Homo sapiens: one gene and its partners. The protein of the gene in region 7 purifies or fractionates together with the protein of the main gene of each other region. This does not show direct contact. Each region holds a gene or a part of one and is shown on either strand. Other genes may lie near its edges. The genes, in order: POLDIP2, CLIC4, MRPL23, TXNDC5, SPTAN1, NAPRT and NENF.

What was found.
Region 1: the proteins of NENF (region 7) and POLDIP2 fractionate together in Homo sapiens (co-fractionation; one large-scale study listed by BioGRID). This does not show direct contact.
Region 2: the proteins of NENF (region 7) and CLIC4 fractionate together in Homo sapiens (co-fractionation; one large-scale study listed by BioGRID). This does not show direct contact.
Region 3: the proteins of NENF (region 7) and MRPL23 fractionate together in Homo sapiens (co-fractionation; one large-scale study listed by BioGRID). This does not show direct contact.
Region 4: the proteins of NENF (region 7) and TXNDC5 fractionate together in Homo sapiens (co-fractionation; one large-scale study listed by BioGRID). This does not show direct contact.
Region 5: the proteins of NENF (region 7) and SPTAN1 fractionate together in Homo sapiens (co-fractionation; one large-scale study listed by BioGRID). This does not show direct contact.
Region 6: the proteins of NENF (region 7) and NAPRT fractionate together in Homo sapiens (co-fractionation; one large-scale study listed by BioGRID). This does not show direct contact.

What each region holds. Positions count from the first base shown.
Region 1 is NC_000017.11:28,347,528-28,351,027, reverse strand, and holds part of POLDIP2 (polymerase delta-interacting protein 2), read left to right. Parts: intron 1-235; coding exon 236-262; intron 263-464; coding exon 465-590; intron 591-1,529; exon of another isoform or gene 1,530-1,865; coding exon 1,866-1,945; exon of another isoform or gene 1,946-1,995; intron 1,996-2,698; exon of another isoform or gene 2,699-2,796; coding exon 2,797-2,911; 3' UTR 2,912-3,500. UniProt on the Homo sapiens protein: Involved in DNA damage tolerance by regulating translesion synthesis (TLS) of templates carrying DNA damage lesions such as 8oxoG and abasic sites.
Region 2 is NC_000001.11:24,839,447-24,842,133, forward strand, and holds part of CLIC4 (chloride intracellular channel protein 4), read left to right. Parts: intron 1-413; coding exon 414-595; intron 596-1,326; coding exon 1,327-1,491; 3' UTR 1,492-2,687. UniProt on the Homo sapiens protein: In the soluble state, catalyzes glutaredoxin-like thiol disulfide exchange reactions with reduced glutathione as electron donor. Can insert into membranes and form voltage-dependent multi-ion conductive channels.
Region 3 is NC_000011.10:1,953,716-1,957,100, forward strand, and holds the end of MRPL23 (large ribosomal subunit protein uL23m), read left to right. Parts: intron 1-1,895; coding exon of another isoform or gene 1,896-1,970; exon of another isoform or gene 1,971-2,066; intron 2,067-2,540; coding exon 2,541-2,705; 3' UTR 2,706-2,885; downstream 2,886-3,385.
Region 4 is NC_000006.12:7,883,903-7,886,788, forward strand, and holds part of TXNDC5 (thioredoxin domain-containing protein 5 isoform 1 precursor), read right to left. Parts: intron 2,142-2,886; coding exon 2,059-2,141; intron 587-2,058; coding exon 457-586; intron 1-456. UniProt on the Homo sapiens protein: Protein disulfide isomerase of the endoplasmic reticulum lumen involved in the formation of disulfide bonds in proteins. Can reduce insulin disulfide bonds.
Region 5 is NC_000009.12:128,629,087-128,632,586, reverse strand, and holds part of SPTAN1 (spectrin alpha chain, non-erythrocytic 1), read right to left. Parts: intron 3,463-3,500; coding exon of another isoform or gene 3,400-3,462; intron 2,267-3,399; coding exon 2,212-2,266; intron 461-2,211; coding exon 264-460; intron 157-263; coding exon 103-156; intron 16-102; coding exon 1-15. UniProt on the Homo sapiens protein: Fodrin, which seems to be involved in secretion, interacts with calmodulin in a calcium-dependent manner and is thus candidate for the calcium-dependent movement of the cytoskeleton at the membrane.
Region 6 is NC_000008.11:143,575,531-143,579,486, reverse strand, and holds the start of NAPRT (nicotinate phosphoribosyltransferase), read left to right. Parts: upstream 1-1,156; 5' UTR 1,157-1,168; coding exon 1,169-1,394; intron 1,395-1,543; coding exon 1,544-1,671; intron 1,672-1,747; coding exon 1,748-1,830; intron 1,831-2,087; coding exon 2,088-2,218; intron 2,219-2,309; coding exon 2,310-2,425; intron 2,426-2,644; coding exon 2,645-2,841; intron 2,842-2,914; coding exon 2,915-3,055; intron 3,056-3,324; coding exon 3,325-3,409; intron 3,410-3,784; coding exon 3,785-3,865; intron 3,866-3,956. UniProt on the Homo sapiens protein: Catalyzes the first step in the biosynthesis of NAD from nicotinic acid, the ATP-dependent synthesis of beta-nicotinate D-ribonucleotide from nicotinate and 5-phospho-D-ribose 1-phosphate.
Region 7 is NC_000001.11:212,435,920-212,439,419, forward strand, and holds part of NENF (neudesin precursor), read left to right. Parts: intron 1-3,500. UniProt on the Homo sapiens protein: Acts as a neurotrophic factor in postnatal mature neurons enhancing neuronal survival. Promotes cell proliferation and neurogenesis in undifferentiated neural progenitor cells at the embryonic stage and inhibits differentiation of astrocytes.

The DNA of each region.
Region 1 (3,500 bases), on a different chromosome or scaffold from region 7:
CTCTGTTGGTGATCTTGAAGGGATGAGGAGTGGGGAGGCCAGGAGTGGATACAGGGATGTTGCCTCCCTGTGGGTGTGTAGGCCATGGTTCAGCTATCACCCTTATCCCACAGATACTCTCAGCTTGGTCTGTCTGCAACCTTCCTGGAATACATCAACTGCACTGGAGAGATGTTGATTGGAACACACTTGGTCTTGCCCTGTGGGACTTAAATTCTTTTTGTTTTCTCCCTAGGAAGCCCAGAATTCCCACGTGTACTGGGTGAGTGTCACTGTCTGGGAGAAGGGGAGCTTGTGGGGTGTGCCTGGGGGTCAGGGTGGAGGTGGGGGAGCCCACCTTCTGACGAGAGCGGAACCTGTGCAGTGCATGTGTCAGCTTTGTTGACTTTTGCTTTGCACAGAATTCTGAGGAGGGTTACCCAAATTTTATTTTTTTTAAACTCTCTCTCCCACACCCACCTCAGTGGCGCTACTGTATCCGTTTGGAGAACCTTGACAGTGATGTGGTACAGCTCCGGGAGCGGCACTGGAGGATATTCAGTCTCTCTGGCACCTTGGAGACAGTGCGAGGCCGAGGGGTAGTGGGCAGGGTGAGCATCCTTGGTCTAGTAATTCTGGTCCTGTGTGGCAAGCCTGGGGGCTTAGCGCATGGCTTCCTTCTCCTTTGTTGTTATAGACAGAGGCTCACTTTGTGAATACATTGTGTTGTTTTGGGTTAGAAATCTTAAAACAACTACATGAGATATGTTTCTTGAAACCCATTTCATAGATGAAAAGAGTGAGACTGAGAAGTTAAATAACCAGCCCATGGTCCCATAGCTAGTAGTGGCAGGGCCTCAATTTAAACCCAAGTGAGTCTGAAGTCAAAACTTGTGTAGTTTTTAAAACTGGTATAGTGTCTTTTAAAAACTAAAATTTGAATGTCGTTAGGTGGGGCACACACCCCCACCAATCCCTGTGGTCTTGCCTCTTTGCCCCTTTACATGTTTACATCCTCTGCTGGTCCTTGAAGAGATCTGATTTTATAATCCCTGCCTACCCAACCCTGTCTCCTGAGAAATAAAGTCACAAGCAGTACTGGTGTCAGGGGCCACATTCAACAAGCATTTATCAAAGTCAGCGAGGACTGGGGAGGCAGTTGGGCAAGTGAATAAGAACAAGGCTTTGGATTTAGGTAGTCACTTCAAATTCCAGCTGAGTTATATATTAGCATAACTTTCGGCAAGTTATTTAACCAAAATCTTAGTTCCTTACTCCTAAAATGTGGATCACACCAGTTATCTTATGATCATTAGGAGAATTAAAGCAGCAGAGGTTTGCAGAGTACCTGCCGTGGTCCCCGCCAGCATGTGTGAATGGACACTGGAGGGGATATCTCCACAGGAGGTCCTTTGTTTTTAGAGACAGGGTCTCGCTGTGTCACCCAGGCTGGAGTGCAGTGGTGCGACCATAGTTTACTTTTCTGGGCTCAAGCAATCCTCCGCCTCAGCTTTCTGAGTAGCAGGACTACAGGCACACACCACTATGCCTGGTTAGTTTAAATTTTTTTTTTTTTTTTTTTTTTTTTTGTGGAGATGGGGTCTCACTGTGTTCCCCGGGCTGCAGAGGAGGTCCTTTGCCCAGTGCCTTCGGACATTCAGTCTGAGATTATCTTTCCCAGAGCCAGCATAAAAGGCCCAGCCAAATGGCCATCTATGGGAGGAGGTACTGGCAGGAAGTGTATCATGCTATGGGAGTGCCTGCTGTGGTGGTGGCTGGGTAGGGGACATCCAGTCTTGATGAACTGGCAGTCAGCATGTAACCCTGGGGTGCAGGAAACATGTCCCTGGGGCTTGGCCTGACCCATTTTGCCTAAACCTTTACAGGAACCAGTGTTATCCAAGGAGCAGCCTGCGTTCCAGTATAGCAGCCACGTCTCGCTGCAGGCTTCCAGTGGGCACATGTGGTGAGTGAGTGTGCACAGCAGTAGGGGCCACCCAGCTCCACAAACAGAAGCTGTAGGTCAGAAAAGTGAGAGCTTAGAGCTTGCCATTAACTCTGGGCCAAGTTACATTCTTAGAGGGAGCCTTATCTGCTATATTGTTGTGTGGGACTTGTCTGATTTTCTATTACCGCCTGTTTCCCAGTACCCTGTGATTTGTGGACTGAGGACTTAGGCTAAAGAGGTCTGGTGATTTGATGCTGCAGAATTGCTTGTATAGTTGGGTTTTTTCCCTTGGTGTTTCACTCCTTTACCTGAAAATGCAGTTGGCTAGCTTATGCAGTATGTATCTAAAGGCCAGAATCTGGACAGCTGTGTTTTCCTTTTTTCTTTTGTGAGATGGAGTTTCACTTATTGCCCAGGCTGGAGTGCAATGGCACAATCTTGGCTCACTGCAACCTCCGCCTCCCAGGTTCAAGCCATTCTCTTGCCTCAGCCTCCCGAGTAGCTGGGATTACAGGCATGCGCCACCACGCCCGGCTAATTTTGTATTTTTAGTGGAGACGGGGTTTCTCCATGTTGGTCAGGCTGGTCTCAAACTCCCCACCTCAGGTGACCTCAGGTGATCTGCTGGCATCAGCCTCCCAAAATGCTGGGATTTCAGGCGTGAGCCACTGCAGCTGTGTTTTTCTTTTCATGGATAACCATGAGGGGCTCTTGGGTCTCTGGACCAGTCATCCTGTCATGAGCTAGAGATAGAAGAGAGCTCAGGCTCACATGTCCTCTGTGGCTGGCAGCTGAGGGCATGGGGCCATCCAGATCCTTAGGAGGCCTCAGCCCTGGCTCCTTCTAAACCAGCTTCTTTCTGACTGTAGGGGCACGTTCCGCTTTGAAAGACCTGATGGCTCCCACTTTGATGTTCGGATTCCTCCCTTCTCCCTGGAAAGCAATAAAGATGAGAAGACACCACCCTCAGGCCTTCACTGGTAGGCCAGCTGAGGCCCCAAGTGCCCAGGCTTGGTCACCGGGAAGAACAACTCTCATCCCACAATTGCTGCAGAACTCTTCTCTCCCCATCATGGGCCACAGTGGGTCTCTTAATTTGATTGTGGGGTTCTTTTTGTGGGGAGGGGTGGTATAACTTTTCTTCAGAAGACCCATGTGGGACACCTCCAAGGCTGGCCTCCTCATAAGCCCTGCCTACACCATGTTCCAGTAAACCTCTCCACCAAGGAACTGTGTTCAGCTGCCACAGGCCTGGAGGAGTTTCCTGGCCTGTCACGTGAGGTTTGATCAGTAAACCAGTGCACGCTTGGCCACCCTTGCCATTTCTGCTCCCAGAGTCTCAGGCTCCCCTTCTGACCCAGTGTGCGCCCTTGACTGCTTTCTTTGCTGCCCTTCCAGGGAGCTGCCCCCCTGGTAGGGCATGTGCCTGTTTCCCTCTCAGCCTGGAGGCTGGCTGGACATCTCCTAGGGTCACTGTGCCTCTCAGCTAGTTGGCGGGGGTGCTGGACTGGACTCTTGTTCACTTTACCTTCTGCCAAATGCAGAGAGGGAGGCCAGTGTCAGGGTCGGAGTG
Region 2 (2,687 bases), about 190 Mb from region 7:
CCGCCACCACGCCCGGCTAATTTTTTGTATTTTTAGTAGAGACGAGGTTTCACCGTGTTAGCCAGGATGGTCTCGATCTCCTGACCTCGTGATCTGCCTGCCTCGGCCTCCCAAAGTGCTGGGATTACAGGCGTGAGCCACCGCGCCCGGCCATTTGTTAGCAAGTTTTTACAAATACCACTGCCTGACATTATTATGCTTATTTATACTTTTACCTGAACAAACTTGTTTCATCCCCTGCCCCACCTAATTGAGCTCTAGGAGAGCAGGAGCCTTGTCTGTTTTGTTCTACAGTACCTTGTTTCAGAGTAAACATTTTTAAACAGTTATTGACTCAAAGAGTCTGCTTCTCCTTGGGGACTTGAGTGGTTTTCCTTCTTACAGTATTCTCATCTCTTTTTTTCCCCCCCAAGCACTGGAGAGGGGTCTCCTGAAAACCCTGCAGAAACTGGATGAATATCTGAATTCTCCTCTCCCTGATGAAATTGATGAAAATAGTATGGAGGACATAAAGTTTTCTACACGTAAATTTCTGGATGGCAATGAAATGACATTAGCTGATTGCAACCTGCTGCCCAAACTGCATATTGTCAAGGTAGGTCTGTAGGGGTTGATGTCGCATTGCCATTACCTTGTATTGTATTTACTAAAGTGGCATTTCCTTTGTGCTCAAAACATTTCTGATTTTATATGACTAGTTGTTTAACTCAATGCTGTTTAGGCAATAGTTGAAGCACCCTAGAGTTAGTTAAATGGAAAATTATGTCTTAAAATTGAGGAATATAAGAAAGATGAATATTTTTTTTTCTGTGACTGCATACAAATTCAAAGATATAATGCGTGACTTTGAATTGGAGTTTGCCACACTGACTTATGTTATCAAATTCTGTTCTGTGATCACACCTTGCTTTCTCTATTGAAGGCAAAAAGTATTGAGCATTTATTATATGAGACACTGGGCTGGGCACATTGTTAAATAGAATAATAATAAGCGCTAGTTGTAAATAAAGACCTAAGATAACAAAAACAGATCTAAAATAGCATATGTGTGTTGTGAAGTATTTTCCAGTGATTATACTTGGCTGTCTTTCTGGATGTCCAAGGCAGTTATTTGCAGTCACTGTCACACTTCTAAATCCCTGGTGTAGCTTGCAGTCTTGGTCATTATTTAAAACTCTGGTTAGAATGATGGTGATGGACTTTTTTTCATATAGAAGCAGTTCTCAAAGATTTAGAGCATTAATTATTTGCTCCAAAATCAGAGATATGTCTAGTTTACAAGACGTGGAAATAAGTCTGTTAACTTTTGATCTCTTTGTATTTCAGGTGGTGGCCAAAAAATATCGCAACTTTGATATTCCAAAAGAAATGACTGGCATCTGGAGATACCTAACTAATGCATACAGTAGGGACGAGTTCACCAATACCTGTCCCAGTGATAAGGAGGTTGAAATAGCATATAGTGATGTAGCCAAAAGACTCACCAAGTAAAATCGCGTTTGTAAAAGAGATGTCTTCATGTCTTCCCCTAAGAATACGCTTTTCCTAACAGGCTACTCCTTCCTGTAGAGCAGAAATTGTATTTTGCACGAACATGCAGTTATTGAAGATTAGGATCAAGGATAGACAAGGTATAGTAGTTATCTTAAAATATACACTCCTAAGCAGTATTATTTTAAAATCCTTTACCCTGGCTACCTCCCCTACCCGGGTTCCCCTCTCTTTAATTTGGAGACACTCCACCACAAACTTTTCACTTTAGAGGTAGCTTGCCATCTCTCAGGAGCCCTCACCATTGTGTCCATTCACTGTGTATAGATGGCAGAACTTTTGAGGTGCAATGTTTAATTGTTAAAAATAGTAGCCACGACTTTATCAGGCAGCCCCAAACTGGTGCATAATGCATGGTACAAGAAATATTTATGTATTTTTTGGAATTTTGTAATATTTAGTAAGAGTATATGAAAGGATTGCTACTGTATCAGAAATATTGTTTCAATTTAGTCTATCCTGGATATGTACTAACGAATATTACCACCAGAGAAGAGAGCTTTCTACAAAAGTCACTACAGATTTTGCTATATTGCTTTGTAGATAGATTTTTACTTTTGCCTAAAAGCATTTATCCTTCATACCAATTGTAACATCTGACACCATGTAGAAGCTAAAAGTTTAGAGGGAGTGAGGGTTTTCTCAAGACCTTCCTCAAGCATTTTATCTTTAGAAGAGAAACTGATGGGCACCTGATACTCTGTCTAAATACGTTTGTTATATGTGTTTTGCCCTGTGCCATTCATTTGGAACTTTATTGCATTCTTTATTTTAAAAAGCTTGTTTTTACGTAATCATAGAGCTTGCTATTTGTACATCTGTTGAGCAACACTACATAACTGATTTTTAGTTGACTTAGCTATAGCAGTACAATGATTAGTAATGTAAAAATTAACACAGAAATTAACCTAAGGAATGAAGGGTGGGTTTGTCAAAATATCAAGTAAATTTTTGTTTCTAAAGTACATTTAATGTAGATGACCTAAAGAATGCGTTATCCATCCTATATAAAAGAAAGATAAAACACAGGTCACCAATTTTCTCATTTCACCCCATTTACCTTGTATAGAGGATTGTTCATTCCTTTGGGACTAAGTTATAGTTATGGTGAGTGTGTATTTACTGTAGTTTTGCCT
Region 3 (3,385 bases), on a different chromosome or scaffold from region 7:
GCAGTCACACGATGGTGGAAACCGCCTCCTGGGCCAGCCGGCCTGTTGTGGGGCTAAGGAGGCAGTTTGTGAAAAAGGCCAAGTTAGCATGGCAGCTTTTCTGAAAAACAGTCACATTTGTTGTTCTAAACAGGGGCCCCCGGAATAATTTGGCCTGATATTTGCTGTGCATGAAATCAGCCAATCCAGGTGGGGAGAGCAGCCGTTGGCCTCATAAAGGCCTCTGTGTGCTCAGTGTCAGTCGGGCCCATCTGTCTTTGTCATGGCATGTGGGTGGACATCCCGTGTGCCGGCACCGCCACGGGCACTTCAGAGGCAGCTACGGTTACAAGTGGCATTCAAGTCATCCGAGCCCTTGCGTTCTTCCTCTGGGCCCCACCTCCCATGAAAACTGAACCCAGCAGCTCCGGGATCCGGTGTCTGCAGCTGCTGCCCGCGTGTTGTTCTCCCTCTGTGAAGTCCAGGCAGCCAGAGACAGGGCAGGGCAACTGGGAGCCTGAAGGGTCCCAGTTGGGCATGGATCCTCCTGTTCCAGAATGAAAATTTGTAACGGGTCCTCACCCCCCTTCCTGAACTCCAGCACATCTTTGCACAGCCTAGAAATGGGCCGTGGCCGTTGGTCCCTGTCTGCCCGCAGAGGGGACTCTCAAGGCCCTTTCCTGTCTCGTGTCTGCTGAGACCTTGCTCAGCGTGTCCCCCTGGGCCCTGCGCCAGGGCTTAGAATCACTGCTAATTGCAAAGCCCAGGGAGGGAGCATTGGAAAGGTAAAATTATCCACGTTATTTGGAGTTGGCCGCTGTGGAAAGGCCCTGTCCCACGTGGCGGGAGTCCCACATTTCTTTCTCCGACAACCTGATAAGCATCTCCTTGGCCCAAAGTCCTGGGAGCTGAAAGCAGCGCCTCAGTGACCCACACAACAAAAAGACCATTGACTGCCCGCTGCCCCGAGGCTTGTGTGGATGCTGAGCAGCGCGGGAATGAAGGGCGCGCAGGAATGAAGGGCGCACGACATGAGAGGCAACTCCAGAACAAACCGCTGCCGCCAGCTGGGCCGAGCTCCGTGCTCGGGGCTCCGGCCTCCAGGTCCAGGCAGGCGGCAGCCCCCAGGGCGCCCTGGGATTCCTGAAGGCAGGGCTGCCTTGTTTACTTGTCATTGGGACATTTTTCTCCATTCCTGTTCTTTACCCCGATCAGCTGTCTCTCTCCTTTTTGGAAGGATCAAGGGCTTTTTTTTTTTAGGTACAAGGTGAACTCTTCTAGAAAGGGGAAGCCCCTGGGAAACCATGCTTGGCATCCCCAAACGGTGTTTGTCTCCTGTAAGAAACGGATTTTCTCTCAGCACCTTTCCCCATTTCTTCCCGAAGCTGTGACAAATGGCCATGTTTGTGCTTTAAACTGTCATTTTGGGTTCCCCTTGCCTCGGAAAACTAGCAGAATCACCTCCATATAGTCAAGGTGAATCTCCCATTCTGGGCAGTCAGCCTCACGTGTAAACGACTGCCCCTTGGTATTTTAAAAGACGCAAAGTTCAGAGCTGTGTAAGGCAATCCTCCTGCAGGCCGGCTACGGCGCACGCAGTGCCACTCTCCCCGCCAGCCCCTGCGCTCTGCGCCAGGGATCAGGGTGCATACACCTCCCTCGCAGGGTGGGATCTGGGCCTGTTTCAGATCATACTTGGCTGCCTGCCCACATCCAGATTTATTTACACACAAAGGGTCTGCAAGAGCCAAGTGTACCTGACTGATTTTACTCACTAAAGGGTTCCAGATTCGGGTGCCATCCTCACTCCTCCTCCCTCTTCTCTTCCCTCTCCTCTGGTCTGCTCTTTCTGCCTCTTAGCTTTGGAGCACTTAGTAATCATTAGCAAGTTAAGATGGCTTCTTGTATTTGCTTAGGTCCCCAAGGAGCAGTATCCCCTCCTTCTCGTGAACCCGAGCCACATGCTGTGGCCTGGGCTGGGGCTTGGCTGACACGGACATATTCTGAACTCTCAGCAGAAGATGTAAGACCAGTTAATTGGCAGAGCCGGTCCTGATTTATCAACTGCCGCACGTGCATGTTTCTTCGTACGTGATGTTCACTTTAATTGCCAGGCTCTGGGCTGGGAGGAGGGGGAGCTTTAATGTGAGTAGAGCCTGAGGCATTTTGGATGGACAGGTTCAGCATGGTACCAGACGTGATTTGTGTCATGTTTTTCCATGCCTTGTTTCTGCCCCCCACCAACCAGGTGGCCCCGTGCTAGTAAATGGGTGCACCCAGGGCGGGGGCAGACACCAGGCCCTAAAGAGACAATGGTGGGGAAAGCGGCCCTGTCCTGGAGCTGTGGCCTCTGCTGCAGCGTGACAGCCGGGGGCCGGTGGCCGTGGGGGTGCTTACATTCCAGGCAGGGACGCTGCCCCAGGAGGCCCAGGGAGGTACCTCTGAGCAGTTGAATCCGGCGCCGGCAGAAAGGGGCTGCCAGAAAGCATGAGGCTCCCCCACAGACCCCTCTGCTGAGGAGTCTTTGCAGCTCTGGCTGGAGCCTTTGTTCTCCCCCTTAGGCCCATGGACAGACCTTCACGTTCCCAGATCTGTTTCCCGAGAAAGACGAGAGCCCTGAAGGCAGCGCTGCCGACGACCTCTACAGCATGCTCGAGGAGGAGAGGCAGCAGAGGCAGAGCAGCGACCCGCGGCGGGGCGGCGTCCCCAGCTGGTTCGGGCTGTGACGGGGTGGCCAGCAGGGACGCGCCCCAGGTGGGCAGCTGTGGCAGAGCAGCGACCCGCGGCGGGGCGGCATCCCCAGCTGGTTCGGGCCGTGACGGGGCGGCCAGCAGGGACGCGCCCCAGGTGGGCAGCTGTGGCAGAGCAGTCCCGACACCTAAATAAAAGTCTTGCTGCAGGAGAAAGAGCCGGAAGCTCTGCTTCCTTCTTCTCTTGGGTCTCTGGGTGCCAGACACGCAGCAGCCACCCCCCAGCTCTGAGCGCCACGTGGCCTGGCTCCGCTTTCCCAGGGTCTGGGCAGTGGGCGCGGCCGGGGTCTGGTCTCTGAGTTGACGGGGAACTGAGGGTGGGCAGACTTGAGACGTGGCCCCATGCTGGGGAGGCGGGTTGGCCAGAGAGGGCCACACACAGGCTCGGAGCTGCATGCCAGGTGGGGAATGAGACACGCAGGTGAAAAGACCCAGAAGATAGTTCTGAGCGCCCACATTCAGAGCCTGAGCCCAGAGGCGTCGGGAGGAATGGAGGGGTCAGCGTGAGCACGGGGCGGCGCCGGGTGAGAGAACGGCCTGGCCTGGACAGAAGTTCTGGGGAGGGGCTGCCAGGGCAGCAGCCCTCAGGGGGCCTGGTGAGGGAACTCCGGCCCGCCTGTGGGTTTCGGTTTGGCACTGTTGGCAGCAAGAACCCG
Region 4 (2,886 bases), on a different chromosome or scaffold from region 7:
GACTTGCTGGCATGGCCCTTTCAGAAAGGAGGTTATGTTGAAATGATTCTTAGATTCAGCCACTGCATTTTATAATGCTGGCTTATGTGTGAAAAATGAGCGACTCGGGTATTTATGGCAAAGGCTACAGACCACTGGTCAATCATCAAGAGTCGCGGTGTGGGAAGCCCCACAGTCTATGGCGTGGGGTCTGTTACTTCACGGCCTTGTTACTCAGACAGCAAGGCCTGAAAACCTGCACTGAAACATGGATACTAACTACAAAGCGGGCGAAGAAGAATGCCTTCCCTTTGAGAGAGGATCTCTTTTGCTTCTCCAAACAAACAACTCAAAGGGACATAAAAACCACATTGTTGAGAAGATGAGAGCAGAGTGAGTTATCGTGGTTGAGGCACAGTTCCCTTGGGATCTGCCCCCATACTGAGAGCTCCCATAAGCATCCATCCAAGTACCCACCGAATACTTGCTGCAGATATTCCGTTCAGCAGTGCAGTCTACTTCGGCGATCTTGACCCCCGCCAGACCAGGGAATTCCTTTTTAGAGAGTTCCTCCCAAGTAGGAGCCAGAGTCTTACAATGACCACACCTAAGACGAGAAAAATGGCAGCTTCGTTGAAATCCTGGGTCGAGATCATTCACCTACACTCTGCTGCCAAGACAAGCTCTGTTTCTTCTGTATGGGACAGTCAACAATTGCCTAGAAATTTGTAAAATACCAAATTCTCCCACTGGGTGCACATTAACTCTTCCTCCTCCTATCCCAAATGAAGAACCCAAAAGTTGATCCAAGGTAGACTTTCAGATAATGTGACAGAAGCAAGCCAGTCTCAAAACAAGTTGAGATTCTGAGACCATTTCCATGCCATGGTGAACTGTGCTAACTGGTTTATGAAAGCACAGGAGCAGAGGAACAGGGAACAGGGCAGATGCCACACAATTTCTAAAAGGTCACTTGAATGCCAAAGACATTTTAGATTTGATTGCTTATGGTCTCACAATTTCAAAACCATTTTAAGGCCTCCTTGGTACTTCAGCGATGTGGGGTGAGCATCAAGGCCATGATTAAGTTTGGTTCAAACCCTCCCTTCTACCCGACTCTGTTCCCTTGTCTCTTCTGACCCCCTCCTGCCGTATGGATGGCTCCCCTTCAGCCAAAGGGGATCCTCCTTTTTGATACTTGATCTGTGGAGCTTTAGGTTTTTAAATGTTGCAAATGATTTGAAAGGCATTGCTATGGTTCGTTCAAGTCCTGTGCTTATTAACTTTTTACCCCTATGGTTAGTTTCTCAGGAACATGTGGAGTGTAACAAACAAGAAAAGTGACGCCTTTATCATGTTTAGATAAACAATCTACTGTTGTCCTAACACTCTGCTTTTCCAAATGGATTGTTTTATTTGTGAAGACAAAAAGTTACTCCCATTTTTCAGCTGAGGGAACTGGGGTTCAAAGGAATTAAAGGACATCCAAGTTTACTATACAGTCATTCACGGTAAGTCTTAGAACCAAGGTTGTCTGGATCTCACACTACCTGCAATCCATTTCTGCTCTGGTCTCCAAGACCACGTGGCATGCAGGTTCAGGAAACTGCGTAGCATACTGAATGGCTCTAACAGACTCTACTGGATTTCTCTACAAAAGAAATCCGAGTACTTAAAAGAACCGAGGAGCAAAGCTACATCATGACACTCATTGTTTAGCCAAAAAGAAAAGCCATCTATTTGGAAAAGTGCAGATACCACAAAACTGAATATGGCCATCATAATTTGCCTCCATTTTTATGTTTTCTCCAAAGTTGATATAACTTTAGCCTCATTCTCCATATATAATCAAAGTTGATATAACTGTAGCCTCATTCTCCATATATAATTAAGGCCATTGAAGTTTAAAATATTTGAATATAGGAGCATGATAACGGTTCCTTATTTCCTACAACATGACCTACATATAAATGTAACATGTGCCCAACATTGAGTCTGGAGGGGTGGCAGATGAGCTGAAAAACATGATGTGACTTAGTACACATGGACAAAGTAGTTTCTAATTAAACAGCCACTTACCATGGAGCATAAAACTTGATGAAGGTTATTCCTTCTGCAATGGTGTCATCGAAGTTATTTTCAGTGAGTGCCAACACAGTGCCCTTCAAGGGAGGAAAAAGCCACAGTTCAAGTACATCCCTTAAAGTTGAGCAGGGCCATGCTTTGGGATTGCAGATACACGAATCAGTAATTTTTTAAAAATGCAGTTACGTAGGCTCCAAGGTCACACAGAAATACCTACACAATCTGCATTTCATAGGCTACACACAAAGGGAGGCTGGCAGCCTCTGAAGGGCAGAGAGATCAATGCAAGTCCCTGGGTCCCAAGCCTGGGAGATGTGGTGAGGAGGTGGCTGGACACTGTACAGGGGATGAAGGTGGGGAGGGGGACTGTCTTTTGGGGATGAGGCAGGTTGAAAACTCTCCAGGGCGCTGTGGTGTGGACCAGGCAGCCCTGGGTGTCTGACACTTGAGTCTGCACCTCTAAGCCTGGAGTCTCCAGGATACCCACTGAAGTCTCATCCTCAGCCGCTTTTCTCACTGGCCACCCTATTCTCCTAGCACCCTTTGTGACATCCTCTCTATGCAACAGAAAGAACCTAGTTACAATAGCAAAGGCAATGATACCTGTTTTACATTGAACATAAAAATGGAAAGCAGCCTGTTCTAAGTCAATGTGAAAAACGCTGATGGAAGCTCTGGCTGGAGAATTTAAGGGAAAGGTGCTACATGGTAGTCTGCTTTAAAGCCATTCTCCCTTGACAGTTCTTTACAGAATGACGTCTATGTGTTTCTCCAAAAATGGATCTGCGATTCTCTCCTGAGAGCAGGAATGGGATGATTTAT
Region 5 (3,500 bases), on a different chromosome or scaffold from region 7:
TCCTTGTCAAAGTGTCTGCAGCACAAAGCCGAGGGCGGCTCAGCAGGCAGCCCTGCTGCCGAACACCCCCCACCCAGCCAGGGCGAGTAAGGCTGAACTCACTTAAACATCATGCTGAATTCTTTGAGGGCCTCCTCAGTCACACCTGTTGTGTTCCTGGAAGAAAAACAGAAATTAGGGAACAGACCCTCCACACAGCAGGTGACTGTGTCTTTTCCTCCCCCTGCTCTGGGCTGAGCCTGGCCCACAGCCCTCCCGGGTACCTGGCCTGGATCTGCTGCTCCAGGTTGTGCTGCATGCGCATGCCCAGCTGGTCCAGCTGGTCCCACTGCTGGGCGAGGCCCACGGTGCTGTGCTCCGTGTACTTGTTGTCCAGGATGAGGGCCTCCTCCATGGCGGCCCCCAGGTCCTCGATCTTTTTGAGCTGACTTCTCATGGCTCGGATTTCCTGGTGCTTGCGCTGCAGGGGTGGGGAGCACAGATGCTCAGACGGGGGCCCTCAGCTCAGTCACCAGCCCAGGAGCCACTTACTGCCCTCTGGTTCCTGCTCCAGGCCTGGCCTGAGACCTCGTAAAACAAGAACATTCTAGAATAGGAATAGTGGGATGGGGTGAAGCTGAAGAAATCCCAACCACCTCAATAGAGGGAGAGACTTTCAATGTGAGGGTTCCAAAGCAGCTGGTAGACCTGCCAGAGGGCAGTGCACGCCAAGGACAAGTACGGCGAGGACTCCAGGAAGCAGTGGCCAAAGATTTTTATAAATTTTTTTGAGATGGAGTCTCACTGTCGCCTAGGCTAGAGTGCAGTGGCGCAATCACGCTCACTGCAACCTCCCGGGTTCAAGTGATTCTCCTGCCTCAATCTCCTGAGTAGCTGGAACTAACAGGTGCCCATCACCACACCTGCCTAATTTTTGTATTTTTAGTAGAGGCGATGTTTCACTGCATTGACCAGGCTGGTCTTGAATTCCTAGGCTCAAGTGATCTGCCTGTCTTGGCCTCCCAAAGTTCTGGGATTATAGGCATGAGCCACTGCACCCAGCCTTATTTTTAAGACAAGGTCTTGCTATATATTGCCCATGCTGGACTTTGAGCAGGTGTAGGCCACCATGCCCAAGTAATTTTTTTCAGAGGGAGTTTTGCTCTTGTCACCCAGGCTGGAGTGCAATGGCCTGATCTCGGGTCACTGCAACCTCCGCATCCCAGAATCAAGTGATTCTCCTGCCTCAGCCTCCTGAGTAGCTGGGATTACAGGTGCCTGCCACCACACCCAGCTAATATTTTGTATTTTTAGTAGAGATGGGGTTTCCCCATGTTGGCCAGGCTGGTCTCGAACTCCTGACTTCAAGCAATCCACCCGCCTCGGCTTCCCAAAGTGCTGGGATTACAGGTGTAAGTCACCACACCCAGCCCCAAAGACTTTCTTTAAAGTGAAGAGCCCTCGGCCGGGAGTGGTGGCTCATGCTTGTAATCCCAGCACTTTGGGAGGCTGAGGTGGACAGATCACTGGAGATCAGGAGTTCCAGACCGGCCTGGCCAACAAGGCAAAACACTGTCTCTACTAAAAATATAAAAACTAGGCCAGATGTGGTGGCTCACGCTTGTAATCCCAGCACTTTGGGAGGCCGAGGCGGGCAGATCAGCCGAGGTCAGGAGTTCGAGACCAGCCTGCCTGGCCAACATGGTGAAACCCTGTCTCTACTAAAAATACAAAAATTACCCAGGTGTGGTGGTGGGCGCCTGTAATCCCAGCTACTTGGGAGGTTGAGGCAGGAGGATCACTTGAACCCAGGAGGTGGAGGTTGCAGTGAGCCAAGACCACGTCCATTGCACTCCAGCCTGGGCAACAAGAGTGAAACTCCATCTCAAAAGATAATTAAAAATAAACAAAAATTAGCCAAATGTGGTGGCACACATCTGTAGTACAGCTATTTGGGAGGCTGAGGCAGGAGAATTGCTTGACCTGGGAGGTGGAGGTTGCAGTGAGCCAATATCGCACCACTGCACTCCAGCCTGGGCGAGAGAGAGATTCCATGAAGAAAGAAAGAAAAGAGAGAGAGATAGTGAAGAGCCCTAGACTGCTTTAGGCCAAGGGAAAAGGGTACAATAATAGCACATCTGGTTCCTGACTTTAAGCCAGGAAGGGAAGGGGTACCCTGGGGGGTGGCTGGGTGAAGGGTCTCTGCTGGGCCAGAGCCCCACGGGCACTTACTTTGGTAGCTTCAAGCTGGGATTCGAGGGTCCCCGACTCTTCCACCATACAGGACCTAAACGTGGAAGGACAGTGAGGAAAGGGGCCTGCTCCCAGCTGGCCGAGAGCTCAGAATGAACCTTCTCTCAGAGAGAGCAATGCCTGGCAACCTCACATTCCTTTTAAGGAAACCAAACCTAACTGCAACTGGCCATCTTTACCTAATGGGCCCCAGGGATCGAGGGATGGCAGGGAGCATTTCTCCCGTTTTAGAGATGGGAAGCTGCTGCCTTGGTGTGGGCCAGGGCTGAGCCCACTCGTCTTGCTCCCAAGGCCAGGATGACTCAGGAATGGAGTTTAAATTCCCCCATGGGTGCAGGGTGGCTGCAGGCCTGTCTGAGCATCCTCTCTGCAGCCATGTGGGGGATGGCACACCCTGACACCTGACAGACAGGAGACCTCAGGGCAGAGGGGAGGCTGAGAACCTGACAGCCTCCCCACAGAAACCCTGGAGTGTCCCGGCAAGGTTCCTGAGGGAGGGAGCCCCATTCTAGGGGGAATGAGAGCACGACCCTGCAGACAAAGGACACAAGTGGAGTGCTGGGAGATCACGACCAACTGTGCCAAAAGGAGAGAGATGGCTGTGACTAAACCCCAGATCCCGGTTCCATCCTCTAGACACAGCCAGGGAGGGAGCCTCCTCTCTAGGACCAAGTTCTGAGAGCAGATGGGCTCTGGGGAGCCTCCTTCCCAAGAGAACACAGTGCCAGGTCACAGAGGCTACCAGTAAACAAAGACAACAAACGAGTTAGGGTTACGTGCAGGGACGAATCACACGGTGCGTGTGGCCTTGGTGGGGTTTTAGCCCAGGCTCCCCTGTACCCACATTCACCCCAACCTACCCTTTTAAAACCCGGCGAGCCAGGGTTAGCTCTGCAATCTCCCCAGGTTCAAAGTGCTCTAGCAAGGCAAGGCACCAGGCTTCCTCCTACCCCAGCAGGTCAGACTCACAGTCACGCCATGTCCCCCCGGGGAAAATGCCCCCCAGGACCTGGGGGCAGGAGGCTGGGTGCCGGTGCAGTGGGAGGACAGACCCCTCCTTCCCAAGCAGCCGAGGGCGGCAGGTTAGTCAGGGTGGAGCCGCCTGGGGATGTCAAGAGTGCATCAGTAAAGCCACAGTGAGGTAAGAAGAGAAATAAGGAGAAAAACCTTCCAGACAGATCATCCCCAACTTCATACTGATAGACACGAATGACCCGACGATATGCTATGCTATTCAAAGAAAAGAAACCAAATGAATACACCAAAGG
Region 6 (3,956 bases), on a different chromosome or scaffold from region 7:
AAAGCCAGAAACAGAAACTGTTAGGTCACTATCTGGAGAGGCCACCACCCCACCACTCTGCCTCCTGTTGGCATTGTCCCCATGGGAGCAAGCGTGCAAGCCTGGAATTGTCCAGGAAAGAAGTCCCAGTAGCACCCGGCCCTGCTGCCATGCCCTTTGTCATGTGCTGTCCCGGCCCTCCCCTCACCTCATTCATTCCTGGAATCCCTGCCCCTTGCTCCAGGGACTGTGCCCCTCCCATGATGTTCTGGGGTGGCCAGAACGTGGCTGCCTGGGCTCTGTGGAGCTGTGCCTCAGCATCCTGACAGCCGTATGTGGTCAGCATGGGTGGCCACACTCCCTCCCCTGGACCACCCGTGTTTGCATTGGGGTGAAAGAGGATGGGGTGTAATTACTTGATTACTTCTGGTCAGACTCTGTCCTCGGGGCCCCAAGCCACAGGGGAATGGATTCTCCCTGGGTAGTGGCCCCTGACTTTGCCCTCAAACCTTTAGAAAGTTTCCTGTGGGGCTTGGACTGCAGGACCCCATAAAAGCCACCACTGAGGGACACTGGGCCTTCATAGCCACAAAAGGTCTTTTGGTGCCAGCCGACAGTGGGCATGCGCCCCCCTGCCCCACGCCGCCCTTTCCTGGGTGCCAAGCTCTTTCCAAGCGACATTTGCGTCCATCTGGGCTGCCTCGTCCTAGCCTGGCTGCTCAAGCTCTAACTAAGGCAGCCTCTGGCCTCCCTCCCCAGGCCCAGGGCAGGAGCTGGCTGCTGGCCAGCGGTTGTCTTCTGGGTCGGTGGGGGTGGAGTCTGGCTGGTCTGTCCTCCACCCTTTCCGCCGCCTGGCAAGTCCTGAGCTGCACCTCATTGCCCGGCCAAAGGGCAGAGACACGAGCGACTGGGGGCACCTCTGGTGACCAAGACCGGGCTGCGCTCCAAAGAGGCCGTTGGGCCTGGAGTGGGGTTGGGGGGTCCGAGAGGAGTTGGGTGACATCCCCCACCCCATCCCGGGTCCAGCTGTTTCAGCCCCTCTCGGCGCGCCGATACTATTAGCCCCACCCGTCCTCCATCGAGTCCCGTGCCGCTCCCAAACGGCACGATAAGCCCCACAGGGAGTGCGCCATAGGCCGGGGCGCGTCACGGGGTCGGGGCGGGGCGGAGTCCGGACGTCGGGAGCAGGATGGCGGCGGAGCAGGACCCCGAGGCGCGCGCGGCGGCGCGGCCGCTGCTCACTGACCTCTACCAGGCCACCATGGCGTTGGGCTATTGGCGCGCGGGCCGGGCGCGGGACGCCGCCGAGTTCGAGCTCTTCTTCCGCCGCTGCCCGTTCGGCGGCGCCTTCGCCTTGGCCGCCGGCTTGCGCGACTGTGTGCGCTTCCTGCGCGCCTTCCGCCTGCGGGACGCCGGTAGTCCCCCGTCCGCGCGACGAGCCCCCCACGCCCGGCAGAAACCCCCACCTATGGCCGGTGGAAGTCCTTGTCCCCCCGTGGAACCCCCCATGTCCCACGACCGGTCTGTCCCCGCGCTGGTCTCAGCGCAGTTACCTCGTTTCCAGACGTGCAGTTCCTGGCCTCGGTGCTGCCCCCAGACACGGATCCTGCGTTCTTCGAGCACCTTCGGGCCCTCGACTGCTCCGAGGTGACGGTGCGAGCCCTGCCCGAGGGCTCCCTCGCCTTCCCCGGAGTGAGTAGGGGTAAGCGGGCGGCGCGGCGGCCACGGGGTGCTGGGCCGAGCGCGGAGCTGACTTCTCTCCCCGCAGGTGCCGCTCCTGCAGGTGTCCGGGCCGCTCCTGGTGGTGCAGCTGCTGGAGACACCGCTGCTCTGCCTGGTCAGCTACGCCAGGTGGGCTGCGGGCCACTGGCAGGGAGCGTGGGCATGGGATGGGCCCCCAGCGCCGGGGCTCCGTGCTGGACTGTGGCGGCGGGGCTGGCTGCCCAGGGGTCCCAGGACTGGCCTCCCGCCCCCACTCTTCAGGGTGTAAGGAGGGGCTGGGTGAGGGTGGAGCTCCCAGGTTGGAAGTTCCAGGCCCCAGGTAACCGCCGTCTTGGGTGGCCTAGTGATCCTCACCCTGGGACCCCCTGACTCTTGGCTCCCCACAGCCTGGTGGCCACCAACGCAGCGCGGCTTCGCTTGATCGCAGGGCCAGAGAAGCGGCTGCTAGAGATGGGCCTGAGGCGGGCTCAGGGCCCCGATGGGGGCCTGACAGCCTCCACCTACAGCTACCTGGGCGGTGAGTGTCTGGTGCGGGGCAAGGCAAGGGCCGGGAAGGAGGAGCCCCATCTTGGCCCGAGGTCCCCCAATCCCACCGCCTTCCTCCCCAGGCTTCGACAGCAGCAGCAACGTGCTAGCGGGCCAGCTGCGAGGTGTGCCGGTGGCCGGGACCCTGGCCCACTCCTTCGTCACTTCCTTTTCAGGCAGCGAGGTGCCCCCTGACCCGGTCAGTCCCTCCTCTAAACCCTGCTGTCTCCAGGCGACAGGCCCCAAGCCAGCCCTTGCCCTGGCGAGAGGTGTGCCACCCAGGCAGGTCACCCCAGTGCTGTCCCAGGAAGCTGGCACGGGCTGCATTACCTTTGCTCTCAAACTAGGGTGTCCCTGGCTGCTCCCAGGCCTCATCCTGCATTCCTGGCCCCCATTCTTCACCGACTCTGTTCCACAGATGTTGGCGCCAGCAGCTGGTGAGGGCCCTGGGGTGGACCTGGCGGCCAAAGCCCAGGTGTGGCTGGAGCAGGTGTGTGCCCACCTGGGGCTGGGGGTGCAGGAGCCGCATCCAGGCGAGCGGGCAGCCTTTGTGGCCTATGCCTTGGCTTTTCCCCGGGCCTTCCAGGGCCTCCTGGACACCTACAGCGTGTGGAGGTGAGCCCGGGCACTTTAGGGGTGGGCTCAGCAGAACCTCAGCAGCCTCTGACTCCCTTATCTATTTCTGCAGGAGTGGTCTCCCCAACTTCCTAGCAGTCGCCCTGGCCCTGGGAGAGCTGGGCTACCGGGCAGTGGGCGTGAGGCTGGACAGTGGTGACCTGCTACAGCAGGCTCAGGAGATCCGCAAGGTCTTCCGAGCTGCTGCAGCCCAGTGAGTTTCCCGGGGAGGAGGTGTGCCTGGTGGGAGATCCCCGGGGTTTGGGAATGGGCAGGGAAGGACAGTGAGGTACTCTGCTGAAGTTTCAGCGGTGATACTGCAGGCCGTGGCAGGGAAGTAAGTGGTGGGGCTCCCTAGGAGCTCCCAAGCAGAAGGTGAGCACAGGTGTCCTTGACTGAGGCGGGGCGGGGAGCAGGGGGACACCAGGGTGAATCAGGAAGACCCGAGGGGTGGCCCCCACCCTTTCTCCACCCACGCGGCAGGTTCCAGGTGCCCTGGCTGGAGTCAGTCCTCATCGTAGTCAGCAACAACATTGACGAGGAGGCGCTGGCCCGACTGGCCCAGGAGGTGGGGTGGATGAGTGGGTAGGCGGAGGGTGGCTGGGGGGCTCTGGGGGCCCCTGCAGGTTCTGGCTGGGCTCATTGCCACCTCCTTCCCCGCCCAGGGCACTGCCACCCCCTTCCCCACCCAGGGCACTGCCACCTCCTTCCCCCACCCAGGGCACTGCCACCCCCTTCCCCACCCAGGGCACTGCCACCCCCTTCACCCAGGGCAGTGCCACCTCCTTCCCCACCTAGGGCACTGGCACCTCCTTCCCCACCCAGGGCACTGCCACCCCCTTCCCCACCCAGGGCAGTGCCACCTCCTTCCCCACCCAGGGCAGTGCCACCCCCTTCCCCACCCAGGGCAGCTGGGCTCACGGCCACCCCCTTCCCCACCCAGGGCAGTGAGGTGAATGTCATTGGCATTGGCACCAGTGTGGTCACCTGCCCCCAACAGCCTTCCCTGGGTGGCGTCTATAAGGTAGGGACAGTGTCGGGGGCCCAGGTGGGGGCAGGTCTGAGGGATGGTGCTGGGTGGGGGATAAGGACCAGCCAGCTCAACGCCCTCTTCC
Region 7 (3,500 bases):
TGTATTATATACTGAATTCTTACAGTAATGTAAGCTAGACAAAAGAAAGTGTTACTAAGAAAATCATAAAGAAGAGAAAATATATTTACTATTAAGTGAAAGTGGATCATTATAAAGGTCTGCATCCTGAGAAGGAAGAGGAGTGGTTGGTGTTGCTATCTCAGGGGTGGCAGAGGTGGAAGAAAACCCACATATAAGTGGACCCATGCAGTTCAAACCTGTGTTGTTCAAGGGTCAACTATATATAGATAGATAAATGGTTTATCATAAGGATTGGTTTACACGATAGCGGGGGCTGGCTGGGCAAATTGGAAATACATAGAGCAGGCTATCAGAAGGGGCAGGCTGGAAGCCCTCAGGCAGGAGCAGATGCTGTAGCCCATGGGTCTTTTTTTTTTTTTTTTTTTTTGAGACGGAGTCTTGCTCTGTTTCCCAGGCTGGAGTGCAGTGGTGTGATCTCAGCTCACTGCAACCTCCGCCTCCCATGTTCAAGCAGTTCTCTACCTCAGCCTCCCGAGTAGCTGGGATTACAGGCGCCCACCACCATGCCCAGCTACTTTTGGTATTTTTAGTAGAGACAGGGTTTCACCATCTTGGCCAGGCTAGTCTTGGACTCCTGACCTCGTGATCCACCCGTCTCAGCCTTCCAAAGTACTGGGATTACAGGCGTAAGCCACTGTACCCAGCCTTGTTAAGGTCTTTCGATTATGAGATTAGGCCCACCCAGATTATCTGGGATTATTTCCTTATATAAAGCCAATTGATTGTAGATGCACAGCAATATCTAGGTGAGTATTTGATTGAATAACTGGGTACAGTAACCTGTGCAAATTGACACATAAAATAAATCATCACAATGGTTATAATAAGAGTTCCTACTTGGCTGAGTGTGGTGGCTCACACCTGTAATCCCAGCACTCACTTTGGGAGGTCGAGGCAGGAGGATTGCTTGAAGCCAGGAGTTTGAGACCAGCCTAGGCAACATAACAAGACCTCACCTCTACCAAAAAAAAAAAAAAAAAAAGAGTTCCTACTCTAAGCAGGTGTTTTGTGAATGCCTGCATTAAATGAGATGGTGGTGTGCACAGGCTTAGCGTAGGCCTGGAATAGGGCTTAGCACCGTAAGTCTTAATAAATGTTAGCTACTATTATTTTTTATTACCTTATTAAAGATACAAGCAAGAGGCATTATAACAGGTCCACGGTCCTTTCATGCACTACAGAAATCTAATAAACTCTGAAACCTAGACATTTTTGTTTTTCACAAGTCATTTGACAGAAAAACCCAGCTTGATCTGAAATCACTTGATGACAGAACCTTGTTGGAGCTGCTATGAGTCTACGTTAGTCTTTATCCCATTTACTGTGAATGTTCATGTTTCACTGGAGAAATACTAACATACTTGATTATGGGTGTTGCCTTGGACCTCCCTAGAGGTATTGCATAATATATGGTATGTTCCCCATAACACCTTTCTAAAATCTGACATATTTTCATATTGAAAACATGTCTGACCCCCAAGAGTTTCTGCTGTGGGATTGTGGACCTGTGTAACAAGGCTTTCTGAAACATCTAGCAATGAGTGACTTGCTTCTACTAGATATAAAAAAACCTTCTTTCTTGGATGAGAGCCAAGGCAGACCCGCCTCTATCAGTCACACATCCCACTGTGTGGTTCAAGGTGAGAGAGCTCAGACACCCACACAGGGATTTGCGTAGTTTCTCCAGTGGCAGCTTCAGATGGGAAATCCGTGAAGCATGGGTGTCCTGGCTGTCAGTGTCTTTCACAGAGCCACACTGTGTTCTGGATCTACTGCACCAAGAGCCAGTTCTTTCCTTTTAGGCATTGTAGGGCCTCAGAGTGATCCAAGGCTCCCTAAATCATTCACATATGGGAATAGAAAAATCTTTGGTATACATTAGTCCTCTTCGAATGCTTGCTGAAAATCTGGGCGGGGTGTGGTGGCTCACACCTGTAGTCCCAGCAGTTTGGGAGGCCGAGCTGGAAAGATCGCTTAAGCCCAGGAGTTTGAGACCAGCCTGGGCAACGTAGTGAGACCTTGTCTCTATTTTAAAAAAGAAAAAAAATCTGGACAGCATCTCCTTGGTGCTTCTTTAGAACTCCATTCTCCCAGTAATTCTAGTAAGGGTTGTACAGAAGAGGTGATTTTGAGGACCTCTTATGTAGATAACAGGTTATAAAGTGAGTGTGTTGAACAAAATTGAAAATAGAGGAAAAAAAGGTAGTGTGTTCCAGAGTGCCTTTCTTTGGCGCTTGTTTTCTTCAACTCCTGTCAAAATTGCCCTGATAGGTAGAGATATTGCTTGCACATGTTCACCGGTAGCTTTTGCCTTGTCACACACCTGTTATGATAGCAGGGTTTCACTGTCTACAGATTGCAGGCCAGAGATTGGTATTCAAGTTTTCAATAAGGAAGAATTGCCCTAGGAAGGGCAAAGGCTTAGAATCAGACAGGTATGAGTCTGAATCCTGACTTTTTATTTACCAGCAGAGAAACCATTGACAGGTTATGTAAACTCTAAGCCTCAGTTTCTTCACCTACAAAATGGGTATAGTAATAACTGCCTTACAAGATTATTTTATTTTAGTTTAGTTTTTGAGACAAAGTCTCACTCTGTCACCCAGGCTGGAGTGCAGTGGCTGATTTTGTTTTGTTTTGCGTGTGTGTGTCTGTATTTTTTTTTTTTTTTTTTTGGAGACAGAGTCTTGCTCTGTCATCAAAGCTGGAGTGCAGTAGTGTGATCTTGGCTCACTGCAACCTCCGCCTCCCGGGTTCAAGCAATTCTGCCTCAGCCTCCCCAGTAGCTGGGATTACAGGCACCTGCCACCACACCCGGCTAATTTTTGTATTTTTAGTAGAGACAGGTTTTCACCATGTTGGCCAGGCTGGTCTCAAACTCCTGACCTCAAGTCATCTGCCCACCTCAGCCTCCCAAAGTGCTGGGAGCCACCATGCCTGGCTGTTTCTGTGTCACTTCTATTCCTGTGTCTGCATTTATACTCCCAAGCCTTCCACCCACCCTCCACCTTCTCAGTTGTCATTTCCCAGGCCTGAGAGTCTGTGCCTGGGGGTTGTGCTATCCATGGATGTTCATCTACACTGGGTCAGAACTCACCACCACAGCACGCTCTGTTTACTGATAAGACCATTCCTCTGCATGGCATATGAGGTATCTATGTCACTCTGAGGCCTCAAAAATGCTAAACATTCTTTTCTTCCCCTATAATATGACTTCCTCTTCGCACTTACACCTTCAAGTAAGTAGTTTAAGGAGGAGATAAAAATTTTACTGTTAAAAAAAGGAGATTGCTGGGTGCAGTGGCTCACGCCTGTAATCCCAGCACTTTGGGAGGCCGAGGCGGGTAGATCACCTCACGTTGGGAGTTCAAGACCAGCCTGACCAACATGGAGAAACCCCATCTCTACTAAAAATACAAAAAAAAAAAAAATTAGCCAAGCATGGTGGCACACGTCTG